4 separate regions of the Homo sapiens genome follow, and all the other regions are reported to be linked to region 2. Evidence: microRNA targets listed by miRTarBase, many of them from high-throughput screens and not tested one by one. Region 2 holds a microRNA gene; each other region holds the end of a gene's coding sequence.
The links. Region 2 holds the annotated microRNA hsa-miR-1252-5p (AGAAGGAAAUUGAAUUCAUUUA, at 3,000-3,021, opposite strand). A microRNA usually pairs through its seed, bases 2 to 8, with sites in the 3' UTR of a target mRNA and lowers its output. Matches are read on the target gene's strand: a 7mer-m8 pairs with bases 2 to 8, a 7mer-A1 pairs with bases 2 to 7 and ends in A, and an 8mer does both.

Region 1 (5,273 bases), not on the chromosome of region 2:
GCTGAGGCAGGAGAATGTCTTGAACCTGGGAGGTGGAGGTTGCAGTGAGCCGAGATCACGCCACTGCCAGCCTGGGCGACAGAGCGAGACCGTCTCAAAAAAAGAAAGAAAAAAAGACTCTAACCTTGACGCCCCTGCCTCTCAGGGATCCCTGCTGAAGGTGGATGTGCAGGGAGAGATTCGGCTCAAGAGCTTCCTTCCTAGCGGCTCTGGTGAGGCATCTGCAGGCAGGACCAAGGGTTGGGGTTAGGGCGGGTTCCTTGGTGTCTTAAACCATGGCATTGCTGAGCTCTCCTGATGGTCTCTCCTCCGACAGAGATGCGCATTGGCTTGACGGAAGAGTTTTGTGTGGGGAAGTCAGAGCTGAGAGGTGAGGAGAAAGTGGGTCTTTCTCCCCTTGGAGTAGGTCATTGCCAGAGTTCATGGAGAGAAGTCAGACAGAGCCTCCCCTCTCCTTGCTCCTCTCCCAAAACAGGAGTCAGGAGAGAAGTCTCTCTCTCTCTCTTTCCAGGTTATGGGCCAGGAATCCGGGTCGATGAAGTCTCGTTTCACAGCTCTGTGAATCTGGACGAATTTGAGTCTCATCGAATCCTCCGCTTGCAACCACCTCAGGGCGAGGTCAGGGTTGGGGTGGCCTCATAAATTCCGTCCACCATGGGGAAGGGGGCAGTGGGGTCGTGAGACCAAACTAACCTTGTTGCTCTCTGGTCTCTCAGCTGACTGTGATGCGGTACCAACTCTCCGATGACCTCCCCTCACCGCTCCCCTTCCGGCTCTTCCCCTCTGTGCAGTGGGACCGAGGCTCAGGCCGGTGAGACAATTTCCTGGGTTCTAGAACTACCTTGGAACCCAAGCCAAGACCTGTATGTTCCCAAGACTCACTGCAGAGTGGGGGTGGTGGTAGTGGTGATGGAGTGCAAATTGGAAAAAGGCTTGGGTTGCGGCCGGTGGCTCACACCTGTAATCCTAGCACTTTGGGAGGCTGAGGCGGGAGGATCACTTGAGCCCAGGAGTTCCAGACCAGCCTGGGCAACATAGTGAGACCCCATCTCTCTGAAAAAAAAAAAAAGGAAAAAGCTTTGGCTAATGGAGTTGGGCTGGGCTTCAGCCCTTTTCCCTCTTGGGAGTACAGCCCACACCCACACAGCCCCACATGGAGGTCCCTGGTGGGGAATGGTGAGATGCCAGTAGAAGATGGCCTGAGTCGTGGTGTTTTACCCTCTCATCCAGGCTCCAGGTTTATCTAAAGTTGCGATGTGACCTGCTCTCAAAGAGGTAAGAGTGAGGCTGGCCTGGCTGAGTTCAGCTCTATGGGACGGAAGACAGGGCCAGGGCACCTGCTGCTTCTCCCTTCAGATGCAGCTGCCAGCCTCAGAAGCCAGTTAAGGTAGAGGCTGTAGAATTTGGGAAGGTGGGGGGCACCTGTGCTGAAATCCTGTTATGACATTGAAGAGGAACAGGACAAGGGACTGTGCCTTCCTGGGGCTGACTTTGTTCCCGTCTCCTCTGTAGCCAAGCCCTCAATGTCAGGCTGCACCTCCCCCTGCCTCGAGGGGTGGTCAGGTGAGTGTGTGCACCCACCACGGGGAGATTCCTGGGGAGAGAGTGAGCTCAGCATGACGGGTCTGCCTCAAGAAGGTGCCAAGCCCAGCACCTTCCCTTTCCAAACTCCAGCCTGTCTCAGGAGCTGAGCAGCCCAGAGCAGAAGGCTGAGCTGGCAGAGGGAGCCCTTCGCTGGGACCTGCCTCGGGTGCAAGGAGGCTCTCAACTCTCAGGCCTTTTCCAGGTATTCGCTGTGGACCCCCAGCCCCTCTCCTCCCACATTCACTTGCAGCCCCCACCCCACCCTCCCGAAGCAGCTGCTGCCTGGTTCCCCCAGCGTGGTCAGCTTCTTGCCCTCCTTCCTCTCCCTGCCTCTGCCCCTCACAGATGGACGTCCCAGGGCCCCCAGGACCTCCCAGCCATGGGCTCTCCACCTCGGCCTCTCCTCTGGGGCTGGGCCCTGCCAGTCTCTCCTTCGAGCTTCCCCGGCACACGTGCTCTGGCCTCCAGGTCCGATTCCTCAGGCTGGCCTTCAGGCCATGCGGCAATGCCAACCCCCACAAGTGGGTGCGACACCTAAGCCACAGCGACGCCTATGTCATTCGGATCTGAGGCTCCCCAAACGAGGACACGACGGCCAAGGTGGCAGTTTGTCCCACGGGAGGACAGTCGTTTCTTTTCCAGCCTCCTGGCCTTCGGACTCTGAATCTGGGCAGGAAGAGTCCTCAGTCCCAAGACCAGGAGGGGGCAATGGGCCCAGCCTTTCTGTGGTATCTGATGCAGGAAGGACTGCAGTGGATCAGAACTTACAAACCAAACTTTTATTCTGAGAAACTGGCTGTACAATATCTAAAAAGAAAGTGACATGAAGGAAGCAATCTACAACTTCCTTCCGCTTAGCGAGCATGCATGTGTGTACGTGCACGTGTGTACATGTCTGCATGTGTGGGAATCCGGGGGCTGGCAGGTGGAGCATCACGGAGCAGGCTGAGGGGAGCCGGAGTTGGGCTGGGAGCCATTGGCTTTTGGAGTCCCTGGAGCTGGAGGGGGACTGTCCCCAGCCTCCTGCTTCCCCCCACAAAGGGCACTGCCGCTGAGTGGGGACGGGGACGATGCCGGGGGAGGAACTGGAGAAGGATGGGAGGTGGGGCCTCCTTTGCCCTCCCCTGTTGGGGGAAGTGAGACCACGATGTACTTCTGGACACTCCCAGGACCAGAGGGAGCAGTGCTGGGGGGTGCGGTGGTGGCGGTGGAGACCAACTTGACGATGGGCTGCACGCTGGGGACGGTGGTGGTGACGGGCGAAGTGGTGGTGGAACCTGAGCCGGGGGCCGAGGTGCTGAGGGACAGGACCTGGATAGAAAGGAAAGGCAGGCCGCTTGCCCTGTGCCCTCCCTGCCCCCCAGAGGCCTGGCGAGGACGCTTCACTCGCTCCCTGCCTGAACAAGTTGTTCCTGTAGTTCACCCTGTAGACAGCTATGGCTGGAGACCTTGTTCATGCAGGGCAGCTACAGCCCTGCAGGACCCTGGTGGGCGCCTCTTCCAGCTCTTGACTTGGGGCCCAGAGGGGACTGTGCTCTACTCCTGGGCCTCCCCAGGGTGCTCTGAGGTAACCCAGGCCCTCCAGATGCTCCCTGTCCCACAGCTCTGCATACCTGCTGGGTGGATGGGGCGCTGGAGGACGATGACATTACAATAAACTTGGTTGGAGGAGGGGAAGGCTGTGGTGGGGCAGCCGCTCGTGCAGACACCAGTGTCTGGACAGGAAGTGCGATGGAGCCAGGAACCTTCAGCAAGCCAGGGGTGCGAGGGCCAGGCTGTGGGGCCTGCGAGAGGGTCAGCGTGGGCCGGGGCTGCGGGGAGAAGAGGAAAGGGGGAAGTGGCACCATCTACTAAGAAGAGGAGTCTGAAGGGAGAGGCCTGGGCTCCCCTCGCTCTTCCTCAGTGGCTCTCACTAGGGCTGGGGCATCCTCACTCAGGGCCTGGTTGCCCTGAGACTACTGACTGAGGGCACATGTGGCTGTGTGCAAGTGCCTGTCCCACACAGGGGTTCTCCTCTGCTTCCTCCTATTCCTCCTCCCCACCCGGCCACGGACCTGCGTGATGGTCAGAGTGGTCCTGTTGACCTGCTGAGCCTGCAGAGCAGCCTGGGCCCGAGCCTTGACCACCTGGGAGCAGAGGAGGGGCCCAAGGGACCCGAATTCTGCCCGATAGGCGTCCTGATTGTCAGGCGGTGGGCGCAGCTTTGCCAGAACAGGAGCACAGTGTTTCTGCAGAACAGAAAAAAAGCCAGGTAGAGGGAGGGCTGGGGAAAAAAGCCAGGTAGAGGGAGGGCTGGTGACACTCTTGAGAAGAACCTTGGGGATGGGGTAAAAAAGGACATTCCTTATCATCTCAGTGCCCCTGTTGAAGGCCAAATTATGCTGAACTATTAGTGTGTGTACAGAACACTGTGGGCTTTCTCATAAGAAAAGATGGGCACGGGGCCAGGTGCAGCATCTTAGGCCTGTATCCCAGCACTTGGGAGGCTGAGGTGGGTGGATCACTTGAGGTCAAGAGCCTGGCCAAAATGGAGAAACCTCATCTCCACTAAAAATACAAAAACTAGCCAGGCATGGTGGCACGCACCTGTAGTCCCAGCTACTGGGGAGGTTGAGGTACTAGAATGCTTGAACCCAGGTGGTGGAGGCTGCAGTGAGCAGAGGTTGCATCAGTGCACTCCCGCTTGGGTGACAGAGTGAGACTGTCTCAGAAAAAAAAAAAAAAGAATGGCTGGGTGTGGTGGTTCATGCCTGTAATCCCAGCACTTTGGGAGGCTGAGGCTGGCAGATCACCTGAGGTCAGGAGCTCAAGACCAGCCTGGCCAATATGGTGAAACCCCGTCTCTACTAAAAATACAAAAAATTAGCCAGGCATGGTGGCGCGTGCCTGTGGTCCCAGCTACTTGGGAGGCTGAGGCATGAGAATTGCTTGAACCTGAGAGGCAGAGGTTGCAGTGAGCCTGAGATCGCACCACTGCACTCCAGCCTGGGTTACAGAGTGAGACTCCATCTCAAAAAAAAAAAAAGAAAAGAAAAAGAAAACATGGGCACTAATGTGTGAATGAACTTGCTAAATACTGTGGCAGGATGGTTAATCAAGAGCGCATTTGCCTTGTACAGAGAAGACCACAGAGTAACAGGAGCATTGGGGAAGGATGGTCCAAATGCCACAGGCTGAGCGTGTTAAACCCTTCTTTTTTGGGGGGCGGTGGTCTCCCTCTGTAACCCAGGCTGGAGTGCAGTGGCACGATCATAGCTCTCTGTAGCCTTGAACTCCTGGGTTCAAGCAATCCTCCCACCTCGGCCTCCCTAGTAGCTGGGACCACAGACACGTCACCACTCCCGGCTTTTTGGTTTTTTTTTTTGCAGGTGGGATCTCGCTACGTTGTCCAGGCTGGCCTCATACTCCTAGGCTCCCAGAGTGCTGGGATTACAGGCAGAAGCCATCATGCCCAGCCCCCTTATTTCTTACTCAGTCTAATCTCAGTCTTTCCATCTGTAAAATAGTATCAGACTCTGCAATGTCCTCTGAAAACATGAGGCAAAGATGGGAGTAAGTGAATAAAATATGCCATATGCTTGCTAAACACTGCCTGTGTCTCAGTGGGCAGGTGTGGGGACAGGGGCTTCAGTCACCAGCAGGAGGCTCTGCACATGGTCTGCTCCAATCCGGTCAATGTTGCTCAGCAC
Region 2 (5,764 bases):
AAAGAACAAAACAAAATTCCTCAGAAGTGCTTTGTACTATGAATCAAGTTAATGAGAACATGAACTCAGAAAAACAAGAGCTCAAAGATGAGTTGACAGAACCCCAGGAAGGTTACAGAACTAAGGAGGCTGAGTACAAAAACAATATTATAGAGTGAATTTTTAAAAGGTGACAGAGCAAGGAACAAAATAAACATGGCTGCAAATAAAATTACCGGCCTCGAGGAATGGCTTGTAAATACAAGGGAACCAAAGGAATTAGAAGGTGACAGATTGGAGTTCAAAAGCACTTAACATGAGGAAATTGATGTCCCTGAAGGAGAAGTTTCAATAAATGGAACAGGAAAAGTATTCACAAATACCACACAAGGAAATTTCACTAAAGAGAAAGAATAACCACATTTATAGATTGAAAGAACATACCATGTTCTAGGAAATACTGGTAACAGAATGCTTAACACAGCCCTGATTGAATACTTACAATTCAAGTATAAAGACATTCCTTGGGAATTTGAGAAAACAAACAAACAAACAAAAACACCCACCACCACCAACAATAAAAAAAAAAAACAGAAAACAAAAAAACAAAAAAAGTGTCACATTGGATAAAGCAAAAATTAGACTGGCTTCAAATGTCTCCATAACAGCATTCAATGCAAGAGCAATATGTATACCAACCAACATGTCAAGACAGATATTCTATCATGAAAGAATTTCAGTCAAGATGACATATAATTGGGTCTTGTGAATTTCTGGCCAGAATGGTTAGTAATGATGGTGTAGCCACCTTTAGAATAGCTATGCTAGCATTTTTCCAAAGTGTGACCTTTGAACTCCAGTGAGGTGTTCCTTGAACAAGGAAACTATGGTCAAACAGTTCAGAAGCACAGACTCTCTAAATGGCGCACCTTAGAAATTTATAAAACACACCAGCATATAAAAGAGTTCAAGACAGTAATGAAAAAGCAGCAGATCTCATTTGGAGGAAGTTTCATCTACCACAATGGATGGGAAAACAATTTAATAACTCAAAATAGCAATCAATTCCAAAACAATTCATATTTATTTTTCTACTTCCTCCTCCCCAAAATAAAATGTTATTATTTATTCATTCATTTATTTTAAAGCAATACGATCTTAAAATCCAGTTCAGGAATAAAAAAAGCAGAGTGGTGTTTTTAGGTCTACTTTGAAAGTACTAACAATAAATTCCCTCCTAAAGCAGCCATGTCAAATCTTTAAGCATGGCTCAATTTCACATCTGCTTTGTTTAAAGGAAAGCATCTTTGTGAAGGTTGCATTCCCACTGTGGAACTCTGGAAGTGGCAGGACTTTAGCTTGGTATTAAACGAGAGAAATTCTAGGAGATGTTCTGAAGCTGAACACTTTTTTTTTCCTTAGGGAACCAGGAACAATGTAACTGAGAAGGCAAAGGAGTAAATATCTTTTATTCTAGAAGAAAAACAATGCTACTACCACTTTGCAATACTTTTTCCTACTTCTCAGTATTTCTCCCATTTACATAAGCATAGTTTTTGATAGTGTGCAATGCCCTTCTATTTAGATTACAAACCACTGCTTTAGAATGGTGGAAGACTACTCTCTACTCACATCATATCTCTCTTGTGCTACTTTGAACTGGAAAAAGTGTTTTAATTCCAGACTGACTTGTTTCTGTTTCCCTACCTCCTCCTTGTCAGAGGACAGAAGTGTGCCAGGAATGTGGAATGAAAAAGCTGGAGGTAACTTTCAGCTTTGAGATAGTGTTATATTGTCTGTCCTTCTAAGATACTGCCCAGAGCTGACTGAGGTGAGAGAGTGGGTTGAAGAGTAACTGAGGTCAAAGGATTTCAACCAGTAAAGAAGGGAGGGACCCATAAACTGGAATGCAGGTATAAGATGCAGCAATTACCAGGATATGCTGCCCTCTTCAGGGTTTTTAAGGGAAAACTCACCAGTTAAAATTGGCTGAACATTTAAAAGTCTAACAGTGCCAACATGGCAAGGATATGAGCAATAGGAAAGCTCACACACTTCTGGTTGGGGTGTTATTTAATACATCTAGGAAATTTAAAAATTGTGCATACCCTACATTCCAGCAATCCCACTCTTATGTAAATATCTAGAAATACTCACCCACATTTGCACAAGGAGCTATGTTGTATTGTCTGTGACAGCAAGAGATTAGAAACAATTCAAAAATCCATTAGCTGACCAACTGGGGTATTTACCTACCATGGCATGTTATACAGCAATAAAAAGTAACAACGTTACTTTAATCAACACAGATACATCCCAAGAATGAAATATGGAGTCAAGTTGCAGAAGGATATATGATACAATTTATATAAAGCTTGAAAATGCACAAAATACATACAGTAAAGTGCCATTTATATGGCTGAAAACATACAAAACCAAAACTGTGTGTGTCATAAAAACATACATTGGAATGACAAACAAAATGAGAAAACAGGGTTGGGAATCATAAATTCAAGGTAACAGTTACCTCTGAGGAGAGAATGAGAGAAAGGAGATAAAGAGGACATAGGCTATTTTGATTATAGATGTTAGGTTTTATTTCTTTAGTGTGATAGGTACAAGAGTCTTCATTATATTATTATTTATACTTACTATTGTAGACCTCAAATATTTCATTAAAAAAATTGAGGTACTCCGAGTCAGATTCAACTAAAATGTATGAAGCACTTGCCATGTAGATAAAGCAGTGCTTTTCCACATTGGGCAGTGTAACAGCCAACACTGGAGAAGTCTATGCTTAGAAATGTAATTGAATCCCATTATCTGGCAACTTCTGCATTGTACCCTCAGATCCTTTGTTAGCCAGTGTGATCCCACCTGACCTGCTGCCGGATACTGTGAGCTTACCACTATGACTGATGAATTCATGGAGAAAGGGTGCAGTGGAAGGAGAAGAAAAGCAAGGTAGATTATTAAGATTTAGAAAAAAGGAAATTAAGCTCATTTGGAATTCTCTTTTCTAAATGAATTCAATTTCCTTCTTTCTACACCTCACATTTTTTCTCAACTTACCAATTTCTCAACAACTGTGTGATGGGAAATGTGAGTAGAAATTTAAAAATTCTTATAGAATCATTAGTCCCTTCTACATAGAGAAAAGGCAAAACTTTCTATTGGTTTCGTTTTGCCTAAAATAAGTAAGACTCAGTGGTCAATTAGTGGGATGTGTAAGCTGAAGTTAGATGTTCACTTCTGAGGCACCTATAGGGGAAGAAGGTACTACCCTCTATCAGTGGTTGTTAACTCTGGCTTCACAGTATAATCACCTGAGTTTTAAAATCTACTGACCCCTTGGCCATTCCCCCAGAAATTCTGAATTAGCTGTTCTGGGGTGGGGCCTCAGGTGTTCATATTTTACAAATATCACTTCCCAGGTGATTCTAACGTGCATACAGCATTGAAAACCACTCTTATCTCTCGGGCTCTGATATACCTGATATTGAACACATTTCAGGGCCATTGGTTACCACGGTTGGAAGAGTTACTGCTGGCCTTTCTTGTCAAGTTCATGACATGATGGGAGAGACCTTGGACAGATGTTTGTTTCCACTAATTGTCTCTCTACTCAGACATCTTTAAGACTTCTTGCCCAAACTCTCTGCTGGAGAATATTCTCTGTGCCTTGGCTCTTTCTTCATTCTTTTGTGCAAGGCCAGGTGTTTTGGAAACAGGCAGGGCTGTGCTATGCAGTGGGGGTGGTGAAGTCACCCACAAGGTCACAAAGATAATTGGTTTACTGTCTAACAGGTTCGGGCTCTTCAAACTCTTGGCCAGCCTCTTGACTTACATGTTGGTTAAAAGAATCATAAATCAATTACTTTTAAGCCTCCCCCTAACCAAAACCCCATTGGAGAGATTGTCAATAACATAAAGAAAAACCACGAATTTGAGAGCTAAAAAGTTAGTGTAACCTTCCATCCAGTGGACATTTTTAACAACACCTTATGAAATGATCATTCGGGCACCAAGTGAAAAATTTTCGCTAATTTCCATGCAAAATACTTCTAGGAAATTCCTATACATCTGGACCAAATGTTAGCGCTGGGACTACAAGGAGCAGCAGTCACTGTTCCAGCCCTTGATGATGGACAAGTGATTACAGGGACAGACCTATAACCAAGTAATTAAATAAGACATGAGACATCTAAGAAGACCTGTACATGTTCTATATACAAGTCATAAACATTAGAAAGAGGACGCTTTGTGTAGATCAGCTTTGCAGGAGAGTTTTTCACAGAGGGAGTAACGGTAGAGTAAGGTTTTTCAGCTTTGTCTTCAATATGTGTTCCCAGCATTGCCTGGGAACTGATTAGAAATGCAGAACATCGGGCCCCATCTTAGGCCCACAGAAGTAAAGTCTTTTTAACAAGATTCTCAGGACATGATATGCAAAAGAAAAACAGAAAAGCACAACTTTAGAGGTTCTCCAGGTTGAAGTGGGGGGTGGGAGTGGGGGGATACTATGATGACAGTTCAGGGAGAGCACTGACACCCACAAAACCTCCCCTGTGTGAATGCATAGTGTTATTACTGCTGGAGCATAGGGTAAATGATGCCATTTACAAGTGATGCCATTTGGAGAGGCAGGCCTGGACCTTGTCATGAAAGGGCTTGCAGAGCATTCTAAGGAATTCGAATTTCATCATGAAGGTAGTGAGAAGCTAATTAAAACCAATTAAATATTTTAAACAGGAGAGAGGCATAATGAGATTTTTGCTTTAGGATGAGGCCATTGGTAGTAACGTCAAGGCAGGAGCCAAGGGGGCTGGGCTTTGAGAGGCTGTTGTCATCAGTAGAGAAGTGGTGAGGGCCTAAACCAAGGCAGGTTGCGGGAAAGGAGGCAGAGGTGGAGATAAGAGAGAGATTTAGGAGGAATGAGCAACAGGGCATATTACTACATGATATTCCACATTTCCTTAAAAATCCTTTTAGAAATACATTGTATGCAATTGGATGAAGAGAAACCAACCACCTGGCCACCTAAGCAATCAACTAGCAAACAGAAAACGCAAACTCTCAATCACCAAATCCTAAATAAAAGTACAATTTAAGAAAATATGATTAGGAGGAAGACACAGGTTTCAATGACAAATTGTAAAAGCAGGGAAGACTAAATGAACATGTTCATTGTTTCTTTGTTTTTTGCTACCTCAAATTTTCAGAGACACTTTTGATAACTGACAATTGATACATGCTTTGCAATTCAGAGTAAGTTACAAATATATCATTGTTAGATATTATAGGAATCTTGAAGAAGAGAAAACACACACACACACATATTAGGATTTTCGTTGTATTTTTGCTATTTATGACTACACAGGGCTTCAGTTTTCTTACTGGCCAAAAAAGAAGCTATTCTTTTATGTTTCCTTGAAAGTGCAATCATTTTTAAGAGTATATTGTACCTTTTATATCTTCTTTCTTTATCAATAGTGTATAATAGAACTTGTTCATCTCAAATTTTCCTTTCAAAGCAGAAATGCATTTCAAATAGTTTGCTGTTTGAAATATTAACATGGCTGATTACTTTTTACTCATTCTTTTAGCAAAAAAATTAGACTTAGCCTTTTCTTTCCATTCTTAGGTTTTAATCAACAATACAAATTATGTATGAGAAGCCTTAGTGTATTATTAGCTGAGTTTTTTAAAAGATATTTGACAAAGCCCAAAACTAAATTACCAATGCTCGCATTTTTCTGAGTCATATTTTTTAATCTTTGAAAAA
Region 3 (5,764 bases), not on the chromosome of region 2:
CACTTTGGGAGGCCGAGACAGGTGGATCACTTGAGTACAGGAGTTTGAGACCAGCCTGGCCAGCATGGTGACACCCTGTCTCTAGCAAAAATACAAAAATTAGCCAGGGGTGGTGGCACGCACCTGTACTCTCAGCTACTTGGGAGGTTGAGGCAGGAGAATCGCTTGAAACCAGGAGGCAGAGGTTGCAGTGAGTCGAGATTGCACCACTGCACTCCAGCCTGGGTGACAGCGTAAGACCCTGTCTCAAAAAAAAAAAAAAAAAAAAAAATTACCAAATGAAAGAAGCCAATCTGAAAAGGCCACATAGTATGATTTTGACTATATGGCATTCTGGAAAAGACAAAACTGGAGAGAGTAAAAGATCAGTGGTTCCTTCGGCTCTGGGGGAAGAAGGGAGGGAGGAATAGGTAGAGCACAGGAGATTTTCATGGCAGTGAAACTCTTCTATATAATGGTGTATACATGCTATTGGACAGTTATCAAAACCTACAGAGTGTACAACGCAGATAGCGAACCCTAATGTAAGCTATGGACTTACATTATGGACGATGTGTCAATGTAGGTTCATTGATTACAACAAATGTACCACAGCAGTATGGGATGTTGATGGTGGGGGAGGCTGTGGTGGGGGCGGGTTGGGGAGGAAATATATGGAAACTCTCACTCAATTTTGATGTGAACCTAAAACTGCTCTAAAAAATAGTCTATTCAGGCCAGGCATGGTGGCTCATGCCTGTAATCCCAGCACTTTGGGAGGGCAAGGCGGGTGGATCACCTGAGGTCAGGAGTTTGAGACCAGCCTAGCCAACATGGTGAAACCCCCTCTCCACTAAAAATACAAAAGATTAGCTTGGCGTGGTGGCGGGCACCTGTGGTCCCAGCTACTTGGGAGGCTGAGGCAGGAGAATCACTTGAACCTGGGAAGCGGAGGTTGCAGTGAGCCGAGATCACGCCATTGTACTCCAGCCTGGGGAACAAGAGCAAAACTCTGTCTCAAACAAACAAAAAAAAGTCTATTCAAAAATTAGTAAGTGATGTGCTAACACAAAAAGAAGTTATATCAAGGCACATCCAACAACACATTCAAAGTCAACATTTGTATTAATAGGCAGAATAGTCAATATTTACTAAATATTCACTCATACCCTGAACAGTGGACACTCCCTCCAAAATCCTTCTTATACCTCAAGTAGAGCACCAAAACTGCCCAGTATAAAGGGAATACACATAGGGAAAAGCAAGGCCCTTTCTCCCCTCAACAACTGTGAAGGGTATGTAGTAAAAACAGATCACTCTAAGTGTCCACTTAAATTTAAACTCCTTTAGGTGAGGTAAGACAACAAAATGCTCAGAGGTCATTGAACCACTGAAATGTCTGTATAGGGCCGGGCACGGCGGCTCATGCCTGTAATATCCCAACACTTTGGGAAGCCAAGGTGGAGGATCACTAGAGACCTGGAGTTTACTGATTATATGAATCAATGAACCTATAATCAATGGGACCAGCCTAGGCAACATAGTGAGGAGCCATCTCTACAAAAAATTTTTAAAAAAGGAGGCGGGCATGGCACGCATCTGTAGGCCCAAATACTCGGGAGGCTGTGGTGTGAGGATCATTGAGCCCAGGATTTTGAGGCTGCGGTGAGCTATGATCACGAACCACTTCACTCCAGCCTGGGCAACAGGGCAAGACCCCGTTTCTTTAAAACAAAAAACAAATGCCTGTGTAATTGACACTGGGTCATTCTGTAACAGGGCAGGGCAGGTGTGCCTGGCTCTGTGGGAAACAACCCGCCCTCTTTATGGTGGTGGCATTTTGTGAATGGACTGACAATGTAGCAGGCATGAGCTCAGCAACACTATCTGCCTAGTGACATCCATCGTAGTAAGTCAGGCTACCCATCAAGCTGCCCTGCTCTAGAACTGAAGTGTGGATTGGATACAAATAACCAGAGAAATCCAGAAATCTGCTGGAGACTTAGGAAAACGAAAGGATGTTTCAAAGTGAGTCATGCATATTATTTTCAAGTCCACAAAAGAACTGGTAATAAAGTTAGTAAGAAATAAACATACTCATAACTGCCCTTCAGCTTTATGGTGTGTTATCGGTTGAACTTCAGCTGTGTGGAGTTACTGTCCAGATGTGTGACTCTCTGAGGTGTCAGCTCCTTTTGGTTCTTCCAATAACAGCAATAGTTACAGTGTGACTGCCCCACCTGTCAGCATCACTGTCCTATGCTGGTTCAATTTACTGGCCCCGCTTGGACTCCTGTTTGTTGACAGCTCTGCAAAAATGAAATGTCTGGACATCTGGTTTTGCTTTAATGCAGAGCAGGTGCGTATTGGACTAGTCCACCACACAGGAAAAATTTCCGACAATTTCAACATTGGGTCAAAAAACTGTATCTATCGAATAAAGTCAATTAAGCTGTCAGTGTTCCTGTAAGTAGAGACCACAATTAATCTAAGTTGATGAAAAATGTTGCTCCCCAGGATTTTAGTGTCAGAAGTTAAATGAACCCAGCAAGGTAAATATAGTCACACATTAGAAGCCAACACAGCACTTGTGGCATCCTTGGTTCGCTGGATGCAGCCTTGGACTTCTACAACAGTTATCACCGAACTTGTCCTCCCTGTGCCATTGTCAACCCATTCTCACAACTGCCACCTTTCTCCAACTCACCTTGAACACAGGCCAGTTCTCCTGCCCAGCAGTCCTAAGACTTTGGCCCTTTGCCAGGTAGTTTCTCTTCTCCAGGAAGATGGTCATGGTTAATTGCCACTAGGAGAGCAAGGGGTCTGCTTGTGGGCTAATTCCAGAGGAAACGTAGCGAACACGAGATGCTGTTGTATTCATGACCTCACTTTGGGTCGATACTTTCCTACATCTGCTACTTTATATTCGAACCACTGAAAAAGCGGAGTGTCTCAGGGCACCGTGTGAGAGGGGAAGTGATAACTGGCCATCATACCTGCTGAGTGTCATGGGAGTTTATGAGGGAAGCTGAATCTGCCTTTGAGAACTGCTAGAGCGTATCTCTAGTACTGCTGACTTGAAACATTTAAGGAAACAAAATTGAGAACTAAGAAACCAGCAGAGTTATCTAACTCCTTATAGTCTCAAGTCAAAAATAAAAAGGGGCTTCGGTGATAAACCTTGGACTCATGTGTCCCTTGGAGTTCTAAATCTTTCACTCACTGCTCTATAAAATGAAGGTCCTGGCAAGGAAAGGACACCTCCTGGTCACTGGCCAAGAATTCCCCTAGGAGACGGCCCCCTGCTTTTCTAAGCGTAAAACTATCAAGGCAAATCTGGGACGTGAATCACAGTGACAAGTCAGACACTATAATTAGGGTAGCAAGAGAAGTGTCTAGAACACCCACCAGGTCAAACTTTAGAACCATGTGTGTGGGCTTCCCCCACCAGGAGCTTAATTACAGCCACGGCTACAGTCTTCAGGAGGGCAAGGGCCCAGGATTTTGTTATTCTGAACCATAACTAGGGGAATTTCTATATGAGGATGCAGACAAGAATGCTAGAAATCAAATCTGTGTCCTTTATTCCACCTGGTAGGGCATACCCAAGAACCATATACTGAGTCCTGTCTCAGGTTGATGGAGGGTTCCCTGGGCCCAAGGCACACAACTGCCTGTGCTCTGCTCTACAGATGATAGGAGGGATGGACAGTGGAGAGAAGCTGAGCCTTGTGACCAAGACCCCCAGCATGATGGGGAATGGAAAGTTGGAAGAAGTAGGACTACAAGGGAGGGGACAGGGAGGGGCTTAGAGGCATTTGGGGCAGGCTGGGCATTTTGAAGTGAGAGGCATTTCCATCCAGCTCCCCATGTCCACTGACAGCCACACCCAGGCTTCAGGTGGAGGTGAGGCTGCTGTTTCCCAATGCGGTGCTATATTCTTCTGGAAGCCCCTTTCCTTCTGCTGTGGCTAGAGCTGTGACCAAGAATGGGAACAGGAGGCTGCTAAAGTCTGGAGAAGCAGGAATCATTTGTCAGAAGAACACAGAAGCCACCTGCTGGGAGTTCTATCTTTTTAGAGATGAGCTGTTTGGGGTTTAGAAATGAGATGGAAGGAAGTGGAAGGCAGAGGGCAAGGGCGGAGTTGTGAGAGGCTACCAGCACAAGGATGGAGGCTGGGGGCCATGTGCAGTAGGGCCAGAAAAGTGTTCAGTGGAATTGTGGGTAGGAGGCTGAGATGCTGCTGGGCCCTGTCCCCACCAAAGATGGAAGAACTGAGGTGGAGGCAACTGGCCACTTGCCTAGGAGAGAACTCAGGCACCAAGTTAAAAAGACTCCCATGAAGAACTGCCACCTTCTACCCGCTGCAGTCTTGGATGGTCTACCCATGCAGAAATCAGTGGCCAGGAAGGCAGGGCCTACTGCTGGGATATCAGGGCAAGTGCCCAGTCCAAGAAAGCCACTGTAATGTCCTGTAGGCAAAGCCAGGTCCAGTGGACAGCCTCACTGAGCTGTGTCTTCATGCAGTCCCAGGTCACCTCACCTCTGGAAGGAAAGTGGAACATTTTTGAGTATGCACGTGAGTAGCTGTGTCAACTTTCGGGGATGAAAGCTTAGACCCACAACCCTCATCCCAGGGTGGCCAGGAATGGGAGCGAGGGGCAGGACAGTGTGGGAGACTGGATAGAGATGGCTTGTCCCTGGGGCCCGGGAATGGGGCTGCTGGGGATCCTGCCGGAGCCCTGGGCAAAGGTCTCACCTGCATGCCTCATGGCAGTGCTCCTGGGCCCAGGCCAGGGCCTCAAGCAAGAGGTGCCACAGTGGCAGCAGCACATTCTGGTGGAAAAGCAGGGGCAGCTCTCTCAGATAGCGGAGTAGCTGATTCACGGAATCGGGGAGCTGGATCTGTAGCTGGACCATGGAGAATGGATGGGGTCAGAGTATCCAGGGAACTGCATCCTGGCCCTAAAGACTCAGGCCACACAGTGCTGCTCCTTTCCCAGAATTCTGCTCCTGGGAAAACCAGCCCCTTATTTGACTCCCTGTCTCTGACTTACCCTCTGAGAGAGACTGGTGAGACTGTCACCAAACCACGCAAGGTGAGAGGCACAGTGGGCAGAAAGGAAGCTGACTGTGGCATTGGTGTGAGCCCAGGCCAGCTGCAAGCTGGGCCGCACCACGGTGAGCAGGTGGGAGCCCCAGAGCGGCAGTGTCTCCCCCAGCCAGCTGTGGAAGATGGAAGTGGGGGAAGAGGGCTCTGAGTCTCCTCAGGCCCACTTAGCTCCCAAGAAACAGCTGGGGAAAGGGAGGCCGTGGGAAAGGAGAATCACAAGCGCTTCCCACTGACTGTCGCCTCCTCCCTGACACCCAGGCCTTCTCTCTTCTGCCTCTCCTCTCCCCTCCCTGGGAGGAGCTCACCTGTAGCCTTGCAGACTGTAGGAGTAGAGCTTGGCACACGCTTGTTGGCTAGCAGGTAAGAAGCCAGATGATCGAAGCAACCGGCCAGTAAGGGAGGCTAAGTAAAGGGGGCCTCTGGTGAGCTGGGAGGTGAGAGGGGCAGGGACTGGGGAGACAGACACTACAGGGCCCAGAGCAGGCACAGCGAGGCGCTGGGCAGAGCTTTGTGTTCTCACAGGGCCACAAAGCCAGCTCCAGGCTGCTGTGGAGGGAGGCATGCAGAGCTGCCCTTCTCCTGCTGGGCCAGGTGTGCAGGAATGCAGCTGCCGGTTGGAGCCTAGGCTCAGGCTTCAGGAAGCCTCAGGTTGAGGGTCTGCCCTTCTACTTA
Region 4 (3,707 bases), not on the chromosome of region 2:
GTGACAGCCGAGCTTTGCAAGCTGGGGAGCTCCACATACGCGTACCGGACTGTGATTTGGTTTTTATTACAACTTGGGGTTTGCTGTCTCCCCAGCTCCAGCCCTCAGGGACAGGGGTGGAATTTAGGGCTGGGGGTTTAGGGCATCTAGCCTGGCCTGACTTCCCCCCTCCCCGCTTCCAGGGGTCTGTTATTAGCAGTCCACGCCCTCACCAGAGGATGCCACCTCCGCCCCCACCCCCGCCGCCAGAGGAGTACAAGAGCCAGAGGCCCGTCTCCAACTCCTCATCCTTCCTGGGCTCCCTATTTGGAAGCAAGCGGGGCAAGGGGCCCTTCCAGATGCCACCACCGCCAACAGGCCAGGCCTCTGCCTCCTCTTCATCTGCTTCTTCCACGCACCACCACCACCACCACCACCATCATGGCCATAGCCACGGTGGCCTGGGGGTGCTGCCTGATGGGCAGTCCAAGCTCCAGGCCCTGCATGCCCAGTATTGCCAAGGACCGGGCCCTGCCCCGCCACCCTACCTCCCACCCCAGCAGCCCTCTCTTCCCCCACCTCCCCAGCAGCCCCCACCCTTGCCCCAGCTGGGCTCCATTCCACCGCCTCCCGCCTCAGCCCCACCTGTGGGGCCACATCGCCACTTCCACGCCCATGGCCCAGTCCCAGGGCCCCAACACTATACCTTGGGCCGGCCAGGCAGGGCACCCAGACGGGGGGCTGGAGGACACCCTCAGTTTGCTCCACATGGCCGCCACCCCCTGCACCAGCCCACATCCCCACTGCCCCTGTACAGTCCTGCCCCCCAGCACCCTCCAGCCCACAAACAGGGCCCTAAGCACTTCATCTTCAGCCACCACCCACAGATGATGCCAGCAGCAGGCGCGGCTGGGGGCCCTGGATCCCGGCCACCAGGGGGCTCCTACTCCCACCCCCACCACCCCCAGTCACCATTGTCACCACACTCACCCATCCCACCCCACCCCTCCTATCCACCCCTCCCCCCACCCTCCCCTCACACCCCGCACTCACCCCTTCCACCCACCTCCCCCCATGGCCCGCTGCACGCCTCTGGGCCCCCTGGCACAGCCAACCCCCCCAGTGCAAACCCCAAGGCCAAGCCAAGCCGGATCAGCACCGTGGTCTGATGAATGGAGAGAGTGAGCTGGGGAACAGGAAAGTCTGGGGAGCCACAGGAGAGGGACCTTGCACCCTCTTTGCTTCCTCGGTTTTTTCAAAAATATATATACACATAGCAATGTCCTCCTCCCCATGTCCTCCCTGCCTTGGGACCCGTCCTCTCACCCCCAGCAGTTGCCATGGGGTTTCCTTCCAGATTCGAGGATCCTTGCCACTTGAAGCCTGGACTCAGGGTGCTCCAGCGCTGGGGAGTGGTGAGGGCCTTCCAGAGATCCTCGTACTCTTTCTCCCGTCTTCTTCTTCCCCACTTTTCCCTGGAGGTCTAGCTCTGTGGCCTCAGACCTCTGGGCCTGTGTGAGCTCTCTGTGAGCTCTGGCTGGCGGAGAAGGGCAGGTGTCCGGAGCTGTCGGGGTGAAGGCTTCCCTGGGGCTCCTCTGGCCGTGTGGGGCTAGGAGAGCGCTCTGTAGAGTTGTGGCCAAACTTCAGCTGGCTTGGCCCTCTCTCTGACCTCAGGGCCTGGCCACACACTTCCATGTGTCTTTTTGCCTGCTGGAGGACACGGACCATTGATGCACTTGGTGGGTGGGACCCTGCTTGTGTTGGCCCCACGTGGGGCAGTGCTTCCTCTCTCGAGCCAGTCTATGCCCTTTCTCCAGTAGGCCCCAGCCCAGACCTCTTCGGCTTCAGGAACTTGCCTCGCCCTGCAACGTTCTTATCCTGATCAAAGTCCAGACAGGTTTTGGGGGGGGCTCAGGTCTGGGATGAGAAGGGCACTGCCCTCCCTCACCCATATTGCATGCCCCCCCGCCATTCCCTTACACCTACCCCACCTACAACTGAAGACAATGCACTTTACAGATATCACCCACACACACCTCGCTGGGGCAGGGGCACCCAGCATCAGCCCTGGGGAGAGAGGCTCCCAAAGGGCCACCATGAGCCCAAGATATCCTTCCTGAGGCAGAGATTGAAGCCATCAGAGCTGGGGTTGGGAGCCAGAATGCCTGAGTCCTTCTGTCCGTCAGAATCTCCGCTGCCTCTCCAGCCCTTTTGCAGCCCTGTTTATTTATTATAAATATATTTTTTACAAGCCCCAGCTCCTCTTCTTGCCCCGCATATCCAGCTCCTCACTCAGCTCCTGCCTCCCTCTCCCCTCTCCACCATGGGCTGCAGTATAGACAGACAGATGGACCCTGGCTGTACGAAGGGCCAGGGCCACTGGGGCTTGGGGGCGGGGGAGGGTGGCAGTGGGAGGGGCTGTATGGAGAGGAGCTGGGGTTCAGGCATTGTCTTTTTTCCTCCTTGTATATAAGAATGTATATTTGATGCCTCATAAAAGACCTTGTGCTCACCTCCTGCCTCTGCCTCCTACTTCTGCGCCCCTTCCCCACTGTGGAGCCCATGGAGAGAGGCCTTAGCCCAGGGAGGCAATGCGCTAATGGTAGAAATTCAGGCACCTGGGTGGACGAGATGCTTTGCTTGGAGGGAGGTGGGAGTGAGGGAGGTTTTCCTATCTCATTTCATACACAGTTTGTGCGACAGAGTGGCAAGAGTATGGGCTTTGGAGTTGATCCAGTTCACATCCTGGGGTTTTCACTTCCTAGGCATGTGAATTCGGGAGAGTCACCCTCTCTGAGTCTCAGTTTCCTCAGTGTAAAACTTGGGGTGATAAGCCATTGCCACATGGAGATATGATGATTCCCAGGGGTAATGGGTGCCAAGGAGCCAGGACAGAGCTGAGCAAGTTAGTTCCCTTGTCTTCGTTTCATAGGATGAATGCTTCCTTCCACTCTTGGGGCATCTCCTCTCACCCTGGATGTGGCTGGCCTGGCCTGGCCTTGGAGCTCCTCCTCATCCCCACAATGGCTGGCCACATTTCTATCCTTGAGGGTAGGGGAGTGATTTGGAAGGCACAGGGCTAGATACATTTTAAGAGTTCTGCATATACACTTAGGATGTCAGATAACAAAGAGCTGGACTCCCTTTCGTTTACAGAGAAGGGGACAGGCTGAGAGAAGGGAAGAGTCTCTCCCGAGGCCACTCAGCAAGTCAGGATGGGGTTTCCTGACTTCTAGCCCCAGGGCCCTTTCCAGTCCTCCCAAACCTCTTCCCTCCGAAACGGACGTGTTTCTAGCATCACTGATTATGTCCTGGATCTTAGCCTAGCGCAGGAGAAGTGGGGTTGAGCCATGGTTCTTGGTTAGAGTCAGCAGGGTCCCCAGAAGCAGCATTCAGTTACTGTTTTTGCTGCCTTCCTAGAATCTGGAATGGCCTCTAAAAGGGAATGGTTTGGATGGCCCCGCTCTTAGCAGCTCAGACCAATTCTTTGTTTTCTTCCTTGTATGCATGTTTAAAGGTGTCCCAGGGAAGACAACTAGCAAAAGCAGCAGCTGGGGCCACCTACGCATTTGATGCCGCCTCATGGACCAGACTTGAGGGTTTGAAGAGCTTAGACCCACAGGGTCCTGAATCAAGTCCAATCAACATTTTTTAGTTTTCTTCCCTGCTGGACCAAGCTGCACGATCATTTCCCCACCTTCAACTTGATTCTGGTTGCATTTTTCCAA

Region 1: the mRNA of TAF6 is a reported target of hsa-miR-1252-5p. Seed matches in the 3' UTR shown: 8mer at 2,409-2,416.
Region 3: miRTarBase lists TMEM214 as a target of hsa-miR-1252-5p. Seed matches in the 3' UTR shown: 7mer-m8 at 4,091-4,097.
Region 4: miRTarBase lists IQSEC2 as a target of hsa-miR-1252-5p. Seed matches in the 3' UTR shown: 7mer-m8 at 1,327-1,333.

The regions. Positions count from the first base shown.
Region 1 is chr7:100,104,729-100,110,001 of GRCh38, forward strand. It overlaps TAF6 (TATA-box binding protein associated factor 6), which reads right to left. Exons shown (of 15, transcript NM_139315.3): 12 at 5,220-5,273; 13 at 3,639-3,812; 14 at 3,198-3,395; 15 at 2,342-2,895. The coding sequence ends at 2,518. It overlaps AP4M1 (adaptor related protein complex 4 subunit mu 1), which reads left to right. Exons shown (of 15, transcript NM_004722.4): 8 at 146-212; 9 at 317-370; 10 at 512-618; 11 at 717-811; 12 at 1,231-1,275; 13 at 1,513-1,563; 14 at 1,675-1,786; 15 at 1,930-4,311. The coding sequence ends at 2,154. Among named protein-coding and RNA genes, the nearest start is that of AP4M1, 5.7 kb to the left of the region's middle. RefSeq lists an enhancer at 2,619-3,119.
Region 2 is chr12:79,416,518-79,422,281 of GRCh38, reverse strand. MIR1252 (microRNA 1252) reads right to left here and starts at 3,025; the gene lies at 2,961-3,025. All of the region lies in intron 9 of SYT1 (synaptotagmin 1), which reads right to left.
Region 3 is chr2:27,039,471-27,045,234 of GRCh38, reverse strand. It overlaps TMEM214 (transmembrane protein 214), which reads right to left. Exons shown (of 17, transcript NM_017727.5): 14 at 5,398-5,494; 15 at 5,037-5,205; 16 at 4,739-4,890; 17 at 3,541-4,524. The coding sequence ends at 4,398. Among named protein-coding and RNA genes, the nearest start is that of AGBL5-AS1, 7.9 kb to the left of the region's middle. RefSeq lists enhancers at 3,503-3,552, 5,226-5,764.
Region 4 is chrX:53,231,660-53,235,366 of GRCh38, reverse strand. IQSEC2 (IQ motif and Sec7 domain ArfGEF 2) reads left to right here. Exons shown (of 15, transcript NM_001111125.3): 15 at 183-2,491. The coding sequence ends at 1,148. Among named protein-coding and RNA genes, the nearest start is that of KDM5C, 8.3 kb to the right of the region's middle.